Linked DNA regions of Homo sapiens: region 2 is linked to region 1. Evidence: fine-mapped expression QTL. A gene starts in region 1. The other region holds a variant in brackets. All regions are shown on one strand. Distances are between the middles of the regions. Region 1 holds the start of TNK2 (tyrosine kinase non receptor 2). Region 2 overlaps TNK2 (tyrosine kinase non receptor 2).

Region 1 (5,506 bases):
GACATTGATTCATACCTTGCACCACGTAACAAAAATTAACCCCAAACGAATCCTAGATCTCAATGTAAAGCCCAAAACTATAAAATGTCTACAAGAAAATACAGGGGAAAACTGTTGGGACTTTGGGTCAGGCAAAGATTTCTTGGACATGACACCAAAAATGCAATCCACAAAGTAACAAATTAGTAAATTAATCAAAATTTACAACTTCTCTTCAAAAACACAGCATTTTGCACTACTGATCATGAGAATTTTTTAGAAGACATTGTTAAGAGGATCAAAATACAAAGCCACAAGCTGGAAAAAAGATTTGTAAATCACATACCTGATAAAAGGCTTATATCCAGAATATATCAAGAACTCTTCAGAACTCAACACGAAAAACCCTACACAATTAAAAATGGGCAAACGATCTGAACAGACACAGCACCAAAGACATACGTATGGCAAATGAGCACATGAGAAGATGCCCGACAACATGAGTCATTAAGGAAATACAAATTAAAATTGTAATGAGATACCACTACAGACATGAGAGTGTCTAAAATTAGAGACTGACCACATCGAGATGTGGACATATCAAAGACATGGACAAACCAGAACTCTCATACACAGTGGATGAGTATATAAAATGTACAACCACTTTGGAAAACAGTCTGGCAGTTTCTTAAAGGTTAAATGTGTACCTACCACATGACCCAGCCATTCCGGTCCTAGGGATTTACCTAAGATAAATAAAAGTGTACATCCACACAAAGACTAACAAACACGTTCACAGCAGCTTTCTCTGAAAACCCATCAACAGGTCAATGGATAAACAGACTTTGGCACACGTGTACAATGACTGTTGATACGCGCAACCACCTGGACAAACTCCAAAATACTTCTGTTGAATGAAAGACGCGATTCCGTTTACAGTAAATGCTGCAAACTCAGACACAGTGACAGAAAGTAGACCAGCCTGTTACCTGGGGTAGGGGATGGCAGAGGAGCGGGGGATGGAGGGGTTCCACAAGAAAACTTCTGGGGACAGGGGAATAAGGGGGATGTTCACTATCTTGAAGGTGGGGGTGGTTTCACGGGTATATACACAGGCCACAACTTATTAAATTGTGTGTTTTAAATATGCTCAGTTTACCATATGTCATTATATCTCAATAAAACTGTTATTTAAAACAAACAAAAAGAAACACTGCATCTTCTAGACGAAGCACAAGGTGGGGGCTAATCCCGGGCTCAGGGGCCAGAGGGAACAGTCTGACCCTTCCTCCCTAACATCTGCCGGGGCTCCGGGGAGGTGGGCACCAGGCTCCAAAGGGCCTGAGGTTTCTTTACTCACGACACTGCAGGGGAAGTCCTGGCCCACCGCAGACACCAAGAAACTGAAACCTAAAGACATTATGTTGCCCAAGGAAGTTACACAGCTTGTAAGCGATATAACCAGATCAAAAGCAATCTGTGTGATGCCAAGGCCTTTCTCCCATTCATCTACCACAAGTTCAAAAACGCCGACCTGAAATAAGTAGGTGAAGATTGTGTGTATGTGTTTAAAACAGACCGTTCTCTCCACTGAAGCCAGACAGTGAGAGCCACTCTGGCCATTCCAGAAGCGTCAGGCACCGTGGGCACAGCAGCTGAACTTCCGGTGCATGAGTGTTTGGGTGGCAGCGCGACAGGCATGGGATGAAGCTGACAGGCGGGTTTGAGTTTGTCTGAGGAGCGGGCTAACCGGCTCCTCCAGCAGCTGCTACCTCCAGCACCACTCCCTCTGCCCCCAGAGGAGAGCACCCAGTCTGGTTCGGGACAGGGGTCTGGGTCCATCTGACTCACAGCCACACCTCGGGCTGGGGCAGAGGAGGGTCCTCTAGCTAAGGCCCTGGGCAAGCAGCAACCCTGCACCCATCCCCACCCAGGGGCAGGGGAAGCAAGCACCTGACAGTGCCAGGTAAGAGGCGAACAGCTCTAGGAGAGTAAGGCCCACAAGCAGCCCGCCAAGCCCCCTGGGGGCACGAGGCGGAATGAGTAGGTCTGGCACTCAGGCCACGAGGGAGTCAACAAGCCAAATACAGCCCCCACCCTTGGCCCCTACAAGCCCTACCTCTAGACTGGGCTGGGAGCTCCTGTCCTGACAGGTGCAGAGCCCATGATACCACAGCGGCCCATCTGCAAACCTCCCCAGGGTGGGGCCACAGAGGCAGCCCAGAGCCCTGGGGTGCAAGTGCACCCTCCTCTCCCGCCCCTCTAACGCTGGGTCGTCCCACCCAGAGACGAGAGGGCTCACCAGTTGCTCTCCCTCCTTCCGCCCACTAATCATCCTTGGCTCTGGGCCCTCAGGGTAAATCAGCTGTGACAGGACGGCGTGGCAGAAGCGGGCCAGGCTCGTGCCGTACCCAAGCCACTAGCTGTCACACTCATCTCAGCTCACGTGACCAACAGGGTTACAAGATAAGGTTCTGTTAATCCCACGCTGCCCTCTTCCCTTCTGTGGGACGTGTTTTGAGGACTTGTGTGTTGACTGCACCATGCAGAGCATATAGCATGGAGGCACCCCTACTGCCATCGGGGGGCAGGTGGAGGGGGGACCGTCCTGCAGCTCCTCCCTGGGGCTACCCCTCTCTTCCCTCTGCACAGACCTGGCAGCCACCCAGACGTCCCGCCTGCTGCCTAGACTCTAAGAAGATGCCCTATCACTCCAATTACCATACACAGTACTGGCGGGGGAGAGGTCCTGCCTTGCCGCTGAAAACTGCACTGCTTCCTCCCTCCAGGGATGAAAGGCCAAAAGAACGAGGGCAGTGTGGAGTCTACGCTCTCGCCAGGGACCTGCAGCCTCTCACTTCCAAGCACACCAACTCCAGCTAACAGGACTGGGCTTCCTTACCTGCCGCCTTCCGCTGCCTCCCCGCAGACACAGCTTCAGCGACGCCCAGGCTGAGACGGCAGAAGAGGTTCCCGCCGGCCGCGGCCTGCCCTCAGGCAGTGGCTCCCAGAGCTCAGCGGTTCCCCGCACTCTTCTGCGCCCGACTCCCCATGCCCCTACATCCTGCGTCCCCTTCAGCCCCGGAGGTACCGTGGGGCCCGGGCCTGCCAGTCACCACCTCCTCCTCCGCCGGCGCCTCCGGGTCCTGAGCCCCTCGCCGGGTCCCTCTCCCTCCTGGGGCTCCTTCCCGTTCAGGTAGGTTTCCTGGACAGCCCGCACCACCTGTCCCTCCTGCACCCCGGGCAGCCAATTCGCCTCTTGCACCCCCAGGCGCCCCTCCCCCGCAGGCCCCCGGGGCCCCACCGGCCGGGCCCTCCCCACCAGCTCGGGGCGGCTTCGGGGCGCCGGGGCCGCTCCCAGGACCACCGCCTCCCGCCCGACGCTCTCCCACTGCCGCTCCCCCAGTTCGCCGGAACTTTCCGGCCCCTCCCTGCGCTCGCGGGGGCCTTCCCCGGACTCGGACGCCGGTTCGGGCTGCTGCAGCAGCCTCCGCGGGCTCCCCTCCCCGCGCTCCTGCACCCCGGCCCGGGCCTCGCCGCGCTCCTGCACTGCGGGGCTGCCTCCGCCCTTCTCCTGGTGCTGCCCGCGGGGCCCCAGCCCCTCCTCCTGCGCCACAGGCCAGCCCGCCGAGCCCGTCCACCACGGCGGGCGCCCCCAGCCCGCGCCGTCCGGCGGCCCCCACACCACCCCCCGGCTGGGCTCGTGGCCGCGGCCGCCGCGCTCCTGCAGCCCCGGGCCCACCCCGCCCTCCTCCTGCACCGCCGGGCCCACCCCGCCCCGCTCCTCCACGCCGAGCTTCAGCCCGCGGAGCTGCTGCGGGCCCCAGCTGAGAACCCCTACGCGCTGCGGCTGCTGCTCCGGCAGCGCAGGGCTCAGCCCGCCGCGCTCCTCCTGCGCGACCCGCCGGGGGCCCCCGACCGGCTCGGCCCAGCGCACTCGCTTGCCCCCCAGAGGCCGCGCGCTCCCACCCCTCCAGATGGTGCTGCCCTCGGCGCCCGCTCACACCGCCCGCCCGCCCCGGCCCTCCCCTCCCGCCCCGGGCCGCCCCCGAGTCCCGCGCCCGCCTCCCCGCCCTCGCCTCCGGGCGTCAACGTCGGCCCGCCGGGCGCCCGCCCCGCGCCGGCCCCCGCAGGTGAGCGCCCGCCCGCCGTCCCTCCTGCCGAGCGCCCCGAGCCCGCCTGCGCCTGCGCCTGCGCCGCCCCGGGGTGGGGGGTGGGGGGGAGTCGGCCCGCCCTCTTAAAGGGCCCGGCCTCATCGCTCCTCCCCCGGCTCCTCCCCCAGCCTCCGGGGCCCTACCCCGCTCTCCCCGACTCCCCCGGGCCCGGCCTGCGCCTTCCTGCGGTGCCGAGGAGCGGTGGCGCCCTGGGTGAAGAAGTCCCGCCGAGTCGAGGGGCGCAATGGAGGAGCGCCGGAACAGGTCTCTCATTCCGAGTAGCTACCGTTGCACTGTGCGAGTGTAAAAGTCACTTCCACCCGGTCTCAGTTGTTCCAACCTCAGTTGAAGTGAGGAGGTTGGACTGGAAGGTTTCTGGGGTCACTCCAGTGAGGCTGGGGTTCTAGTCCCAATCTCACCGTGGCACCCCAAAGGCCCAGAAACCCGGACCATCACCTCTCTTTCCCCGGGGCCAACGGAGCACTCCTGAAGGAGGGAGGGTTTGTCTCAGGCCTGACGATTCCTGATGAGGACTTGGGCAGAAACAGCCCCAGGCAAGCGGACCTTCATTCCTGCACTTGAGCCGTCTCCTCCCTGCCCCCACCCCAGAAGGAGAAAACCCAGCGCTCGGATTCCCAGCGGCGGGGCAGCCTGCAGGCCCTGTTCCCAGCCCACAGACCCATGTCCCAGCCCAAACGGAGGCAGCCCTGGGCAGCGGGCGCGTGGAGCCCAAGGGCTCAGGGCCACTCAGCCCTTGTTACTGTCCCTCATCTAGAAAATGGATGTAATAACAAAACAGTTCACGGTAGGTGGCAAGATCAGACACATCGGAAACTGTGTAGGGCTGGCTCTTTCTGCGCTCACACTGTCCAGCAATGGGCCCCAGGGACTTGGCCAGAGCGCAGTAGGGCAATGAGAAAGGGGTGGCTTCTGGAAACCTACACGAGGCCCAGTCTGGGTGGATTTGGGTGGCGGTCCCTTGCCTGCGAGGTGGGCAGGGCAACTTTCTACTAAATTATCTAACACTGCCAGTAATGGCAGCCCTTCCCCAGGGAGCCAGGAGGCTGGGCCAGGACCACCCCCCTGTCGCCTGGCTTCAGGAAAGAAAGTGGGGAAGACAACAGATTTGGGAGAAGGAAACTGAGGAGGTTTTCTCCCAGTCTCCCTCACGCTGCCTCAGTCATGGCCATTGCTAAGACTCACAGAGCCCAACTGTGCAAGGCCCTGCACTTCGCATTCTTCTCATCCAACCCCATGACAACCCAAGGAGACACATAATATCCCCATTTTACACGTGGCAGAACTGAGGTTCTACATGGCCAAGTGACTTGTTCAGTGCCATACAGCTGGTAGTAGTGAAGCCAGGATTCAAA
Region 2 (5,000 bases), 38 kb before region 1:
CCTGGGGGGTGGCGTACTTGGGGTCTGAGGCAAAGCTCTGGGTGGTGGGCATGGTCTTCCCAGGTGAGCTTGAGAGCCGGGGTGGCAGCGGGGAGCTGCCAGGTGGTACCAGGGGGCTGGGTGTCCTCGAGCCTTGAGGGGACAGGGGCTCCCGCGGAGGCACCCGGGGAGGGGAAGCAGGTCCAGGCCACTGGCTGGTCTCCTCCTCGCCCGGGGGGGCTGGAGACAGCTGGACGTGTGGGCGCGTGGGCCGAGGGGGGATGGGTACCCGAGGAGGCACCTGGGGCTTGTCGTCACCCCCCGGGCTGGGAGAGGGGGCCGGGGAGCCGGCCGGAGCCTGCAGTTGCCTCATGCACTCCTGCTGTAGCGCCTGGAAGATCTCTGCGGTCTGTGCGGAGCTGGGCGGCTTGCCCCCACCCTGGGGCGGGAGGAACAGGTTGTCCTCCAGGGGAGGGGGCGGCCGCGCCTGCTCAGGCACAAAGGCGTAGTTGGTCTGGCCCTGGCTGGGCCCGGCAGGGACCCCCGCGCCCACGAGGGTGCTGTTGATGGAGCAGATCTCAAAGTCATCCTCATCCTGGGCCACGTCGTCATAGGCGGGCGGGGGGGGCAGCGGGCGTGCGTCCCAGTCCACCACAGGCGTGGGGTGCAGGGGCCGGGGCAGTGCCCGCGTGGGGCTCTGAGGCGGGGTCTCGTCCAGCAGGGAGCAGGCGTCCATGGCCAGCTGCGCCAGGGAGGGCGCGCAGGGCCGTAGGGCCGGGACCACGGGCTCCTCACCGAAGTCGATGAGCGTGACCTCAGCCCCGCTGCCTCGGCTGGCCTTGGTGCCCGGCACCCGCGCCGAGGGCTTCGCCAGCCACAGCCCTCGGGGCAGGCCTGGCTTCCGCAGGCCCAGCCTCTTGAAGTCGCTGGACAAGGGGTCTTGGTCCTCGCTCACAGGGTCATAGGTTGGTTCTGTGATGGAAAGGGAGAGCCCAACAGGAAGGCAGTCAGGCAGGGTCTGGGACACGAGGGGAGGTGGCACGTGGGAGAGAAAGCCAAGTGTCCCCCAGCAACCCTCCACTCCCAACTCCCCCCGAGGTCTGAGGTCAGCCACCGGCGGCCAGGTTCTCAGCGCACCTCCGACCACTCCATCAGGAGGGCGGAACCTGCTCTGCCCGGCAGCCCCATGTGGGCCGGTGAGCCCCGCCTCGCTCCGTCTAAGCTGCAGCAAGCAACACTGGCTCCTGCCTGACGCTGCCTCCACCAGCACAAGACCCCGGCGGCCCTGCTCCTGCGCCCTGGCGAGTTAGTGAGCCCTCATCCCCGCCCCTGTCACGGCACACCATTAGTGCAGGCACGGAGCCGCCTCCTGCCATCAGGGGCTATAAGGACTATCCTTGGAGAGGACAGTACTCCTGACCAACGGCCACAAAGCCCAGACAGCGCCTGCAGGTCTGGGAGGCAGCGAGGCCAAGGCAGAAGCCAGGGCCACACTCGTGCTCCAGAAGCTCAGACAGGTCTGGGAGGGAGTGAGGCCGAGGCGGAAGCCAGGGCCACACTCGTGAGCAGAAGCCCAGGCTCCGGGGGGCGGGCTCGAGGGGGGGCAGGCATGCTAGGCCAGGGCAGCCGCGGAAGCTCACAGCACACACCCACCCACCTCCCCTCCGGCCCAGCCGCCCAGGCTCTGTACCTTCCAGGAGAGGAGTGAGAGAGAGGGGGCGGGGGCGGGGGCCAAGGCATCGGAAGCAGCCCCACTTACTCTGAGTGAAGAAGGCAGGCTGAGGTGGGCGAGGTGGAGGCTCCCCTGCAAGAAAGGCCATGCGGACAGGGGGAGAGAGACGGAGCAGGACAGAGGACAAAGGAGGGAGACGGCCGGACGAGAGGGCAGAGTGTAGAGAGACGAAGGGAGAGAAGTGAATGGGGGCGAGTGAATGTACAAGCCCCCAGCAAACGGGAGGCCGCAGGCGGCAGGATGAGGAACACGGCGGTCCAGTATGATAGGCAGAGGACCGGGAGATGGAGGAGGCCCCAGGCAGAGCCGGAGCCGTGGGGTGGTTTTGGCTTGGGACAGGAGAGCAGGATTAGGGGGAAGTGAGGAAAGCCAGGATCTGAGCTCGGCCGTGGAAGGAGGGAGGAGGGACGCCGGGGCGGACGGGCCTGCTGCAGACCCAGCCCGAGGAGGCCCACCTCGGCGGATACAGCTGCCTGTCTTCCACCCCACGCCCAGCCGGAGCCAGGGACACAGCTGTCCCGCCTGCTGCCCTGACCCCACTGTCCCCAAAAACAGAACAGCAGCCTTAGGGTGGCCTGTGAAGACAGTGCCCCTTCCTGAGTAGCCGATGAGTTAGGGACACCAGGGAGCAGAGGGGCTCTTACTTTTCACCCCTCCTAGATGCTGGGGGGGCCGGGAGGTGCTCAGTTCCACGCTCAGGAGGTCGGGGGGGTCCATGGGGTTTCCCAGATACAGTCTGTGGGGGAGAGAGCTGGGTCAAGAGAGCAGGGGAAGCGTGTGGAGGGGTGGCAGAATCTCATCAGAGCCCCTTCGTCCTGGAGGAAACCGGGTGTAGTCTTGGGTCTGAAGCACAGGCCTCCCGCCTCCCAGTCCACAGAACCTGACCGCACGTCTCAGCTGGGGGGTGTCCTGGAGAGAAGGCAGAGAAAGGACACCTGACCCCAGGA[T/C]GGAAAGCCTAGGACCTCAGGGACTCCAACTACACCCTACAAGGGCAGAGGTGGTCCTCCACAACCCCCCAGGCCCCCAGCCCACACCAGGCAGCGGCCAGAGGGCAGACACTCCTGTCCCGCAGGCCACGATGGAGGGCCTAAGAACGGGGCATCCCAGCTATGGTGCCCAGCCAGGGTGGGCAGGAGGCACCCTTCTGCCACATGGCCAGGAGGTGCGGGAGAGGCTGGGCCACCTGTCCTGCTCCGGATCCACCCTCCGTCCCTGCACCAACTGTCAGTATCTGAGACTTAGTCACTGGGGCTGATTAAAGCCTGGAGGAATGGGGCTGGGCTGGCCACAGCATGCCAGGAGTGGGGCAGAGGGCACCAGCCTCTCCTGGAGGTGTCTGCAGTCTTTCACCCCAACTCTCAGGCCCTTGCTGGGTTCTTTTTAGGCAAAACACATGGGCTGAGCCCTGTGAGCTTGGGGTTCCAGTGTGTGTGGGCCCGCTGTGTGGGTTCTGGTGTGTGGGGGCCCGCTGTGTGGGTTCTGGTGTGGGGGGACTCGCTGTGTGGGGTTCTGGTGTGTGGGGGCCCGCTGTGTGGGTTCTGGTGTGTGGGGGCCCGCTGTGTGGGGTTCTGGTGTGTGGGGCCCGGTGGGTGAAGGCCCCTGCTTTCCACGCCTCTCAGGGCAGACCAGAGTATCAGAAGTCAGCAGGAGAAGGGCTGCAGAGGCCAGGGGCCTGGAATCCCCCTGCGGCCAGCAGAGAGGCTTGGAGGCCTGGCGCAAGAAGCTTCGGGGGGTGGGGGGTGGCATCCCGGAAGTGACTGATTCTGCGTGTCCTTCCCAGATGCCCCTCGGTGGCCTTATCCTCTTACATAGGAGACAGGGCCTCTCCCAGGTATGGAGTGAGCTCCGTAGAGTACTGTGTGGTGGGGAGGCGGAGCTGCCACCTAACGTTCCCTCTGCAGTCCCCAAGGTCCCCAGTCCCACTCTGGTTCTGGAAAGCAGGCTCACTCCCATGTGGACCTGCATACATCCCCAGGGCCTGAGCCAGCAGGTTCACGTCTCCAGGACTCTGGCACCACCAGCAGGAGAAGGAAAACCACTGCTCGTGTGCAGGGGTCACAGGGTCACAGGGTCACAGGGGGCCACAGGGGGGTCATGGGAGAAGCTCTCCTCCTCAGCAGCTCCCACCGGGTTCCTCCCAAGTTCATTTTCCTAAGGCCCGAGTACCAAGAGGGGTTACAGCTGTGGCTCCGGGGACCTTTCCACCAAACAGGAGTCCATCCTCAGAAGCTCCTGACCCTACTTTCATCTACAGTGAGTGGGAAAGCTTCTCTCAGGACCCCTGCATCTGAGCAGCAAGTGCTAATTCAGAGTGCATTTACAGCCTTCCCCTTATTGGGGGGGTGAACCTGTTTCACAGATGAAGTGTCTCAGAGTTAGGAGATCGGCCCCCCAAAGCTTGAAAATGGCAGGGACAGCATTCCCCTGGAGAACGCTCCCCGGAGAACCCTCCCCTGGAGAACCCTCCCCTGGAGAACATTCCCCTGGAGAACCCTCCCCTGGAGAACCCTCCCCTGGAGAACCCTCCCCTGGAGAACATTCCCCTGGAGAACCCTCCCCTGGAGAACCCTCCCCTGGAGAACACTCCCCTGGAGAACATTCCCCTGGAGAACCCCCACCAGGCTGGGCTTCCTAGGGTTCCACAGCTTCCCGAGAGTAAGGCCAGGGTGAGGAGGGGAGAGTGGCGGGTCGGGGGCTGAAGCCCGGGCGAAAGGGTGAAGAGCAGATTCCGCCCACGCGTGCCGTGCTGAGGGCCCTGGAGTCCCGAGCGGGGCCAGGTCAGCATCCATCCCCGCCCAGTACTCACTCGTCAATCCTGTCCGGGAAGCCCCAGCAGTGGCGGGGGTCACTGTCGCCATGCCCTGTGTGGATGAAGCTGTTCTGCAGGGGCTGGCTGATGTCCTGGGCCGACAGGCCGGCCACGGAGGTCACCACGTTGCGAGGGAAGGGCCCCACACACAGCGTCCGTGTGTTCTGGCCACGCCACCAGTAGTTCTCGGCCCTGCGCGACAGAGATGGCACGGTGAACGCCAGGCGTGGCGGGGCAGCCCCGGCACTGGGACCCTCCTCACACCCTGGCCACTGTGGCAGAAGGGGGATGGAGCTCAGGCCTCAGGACCAGGCTGTGTGCCACCGGCCCTCCTCCCCAACAGCCCCCGTGACCCACCATGCCCCGTACAGGCCTGTTTGCACACGGCCTTACCCACAACTCTCTAGGTGGGTCAGGCAGCTTTCCCTATGGTTTGCAAATAAGGAGGCACGCTGGAAGCTGCTGCAGCAGGCAACATGA

What was found. PIP is the estimated chance that this variant, and not a neighbour inherited with it, causes the effect.
Region 2: its variant is fine-mapped to the expression of TNK2 in whole blood (TOPMed, PIP above 0.99).

Annotation. Positions count from the first base shown.
Region 1 is chr3:195,905,604-195,911,109 of GRCh38, forward strand. TNK2 (tyrosine kinase non receptor 2) reads right to left here and starts at 2,948. Exons shown (of 16, transcript NM_001382273.1): 1 at 2,882-2,948. It overlaps TNK2-AS1 (TNK2 antisense RNA 1), which reads left to right and starts at 2,473. Exons shown (of 2, transcript NR_145450.1): 1 at 2,473-3,175; 2 at 4,262-5,506. RefSeq lists enhancers at 1,162-1,211, 1,262-1,491, 4,482-4,531 and silencers at 3,162-3,411, 3,462-3,651, 3,702-4,351.
Region 2 is chr3:195,867,759-195,872,758 of GRCh38, forward strand. TNK2 (tyrosine kinase non receptor 2) reads right to left here. Exons shown (of 16, transcript NM_001382273.1): 10 at 4,518-4,712; 11 at 2,356-2,447; 12 at 1,739-1,783; 13 at 1-951. Among named protein-coding and RNA genes, the nearest start is that of LINC01983, 9.9 kb to the left of the region's middle. The variant T/C (reference allele first, on the strand shown) is at 2,659.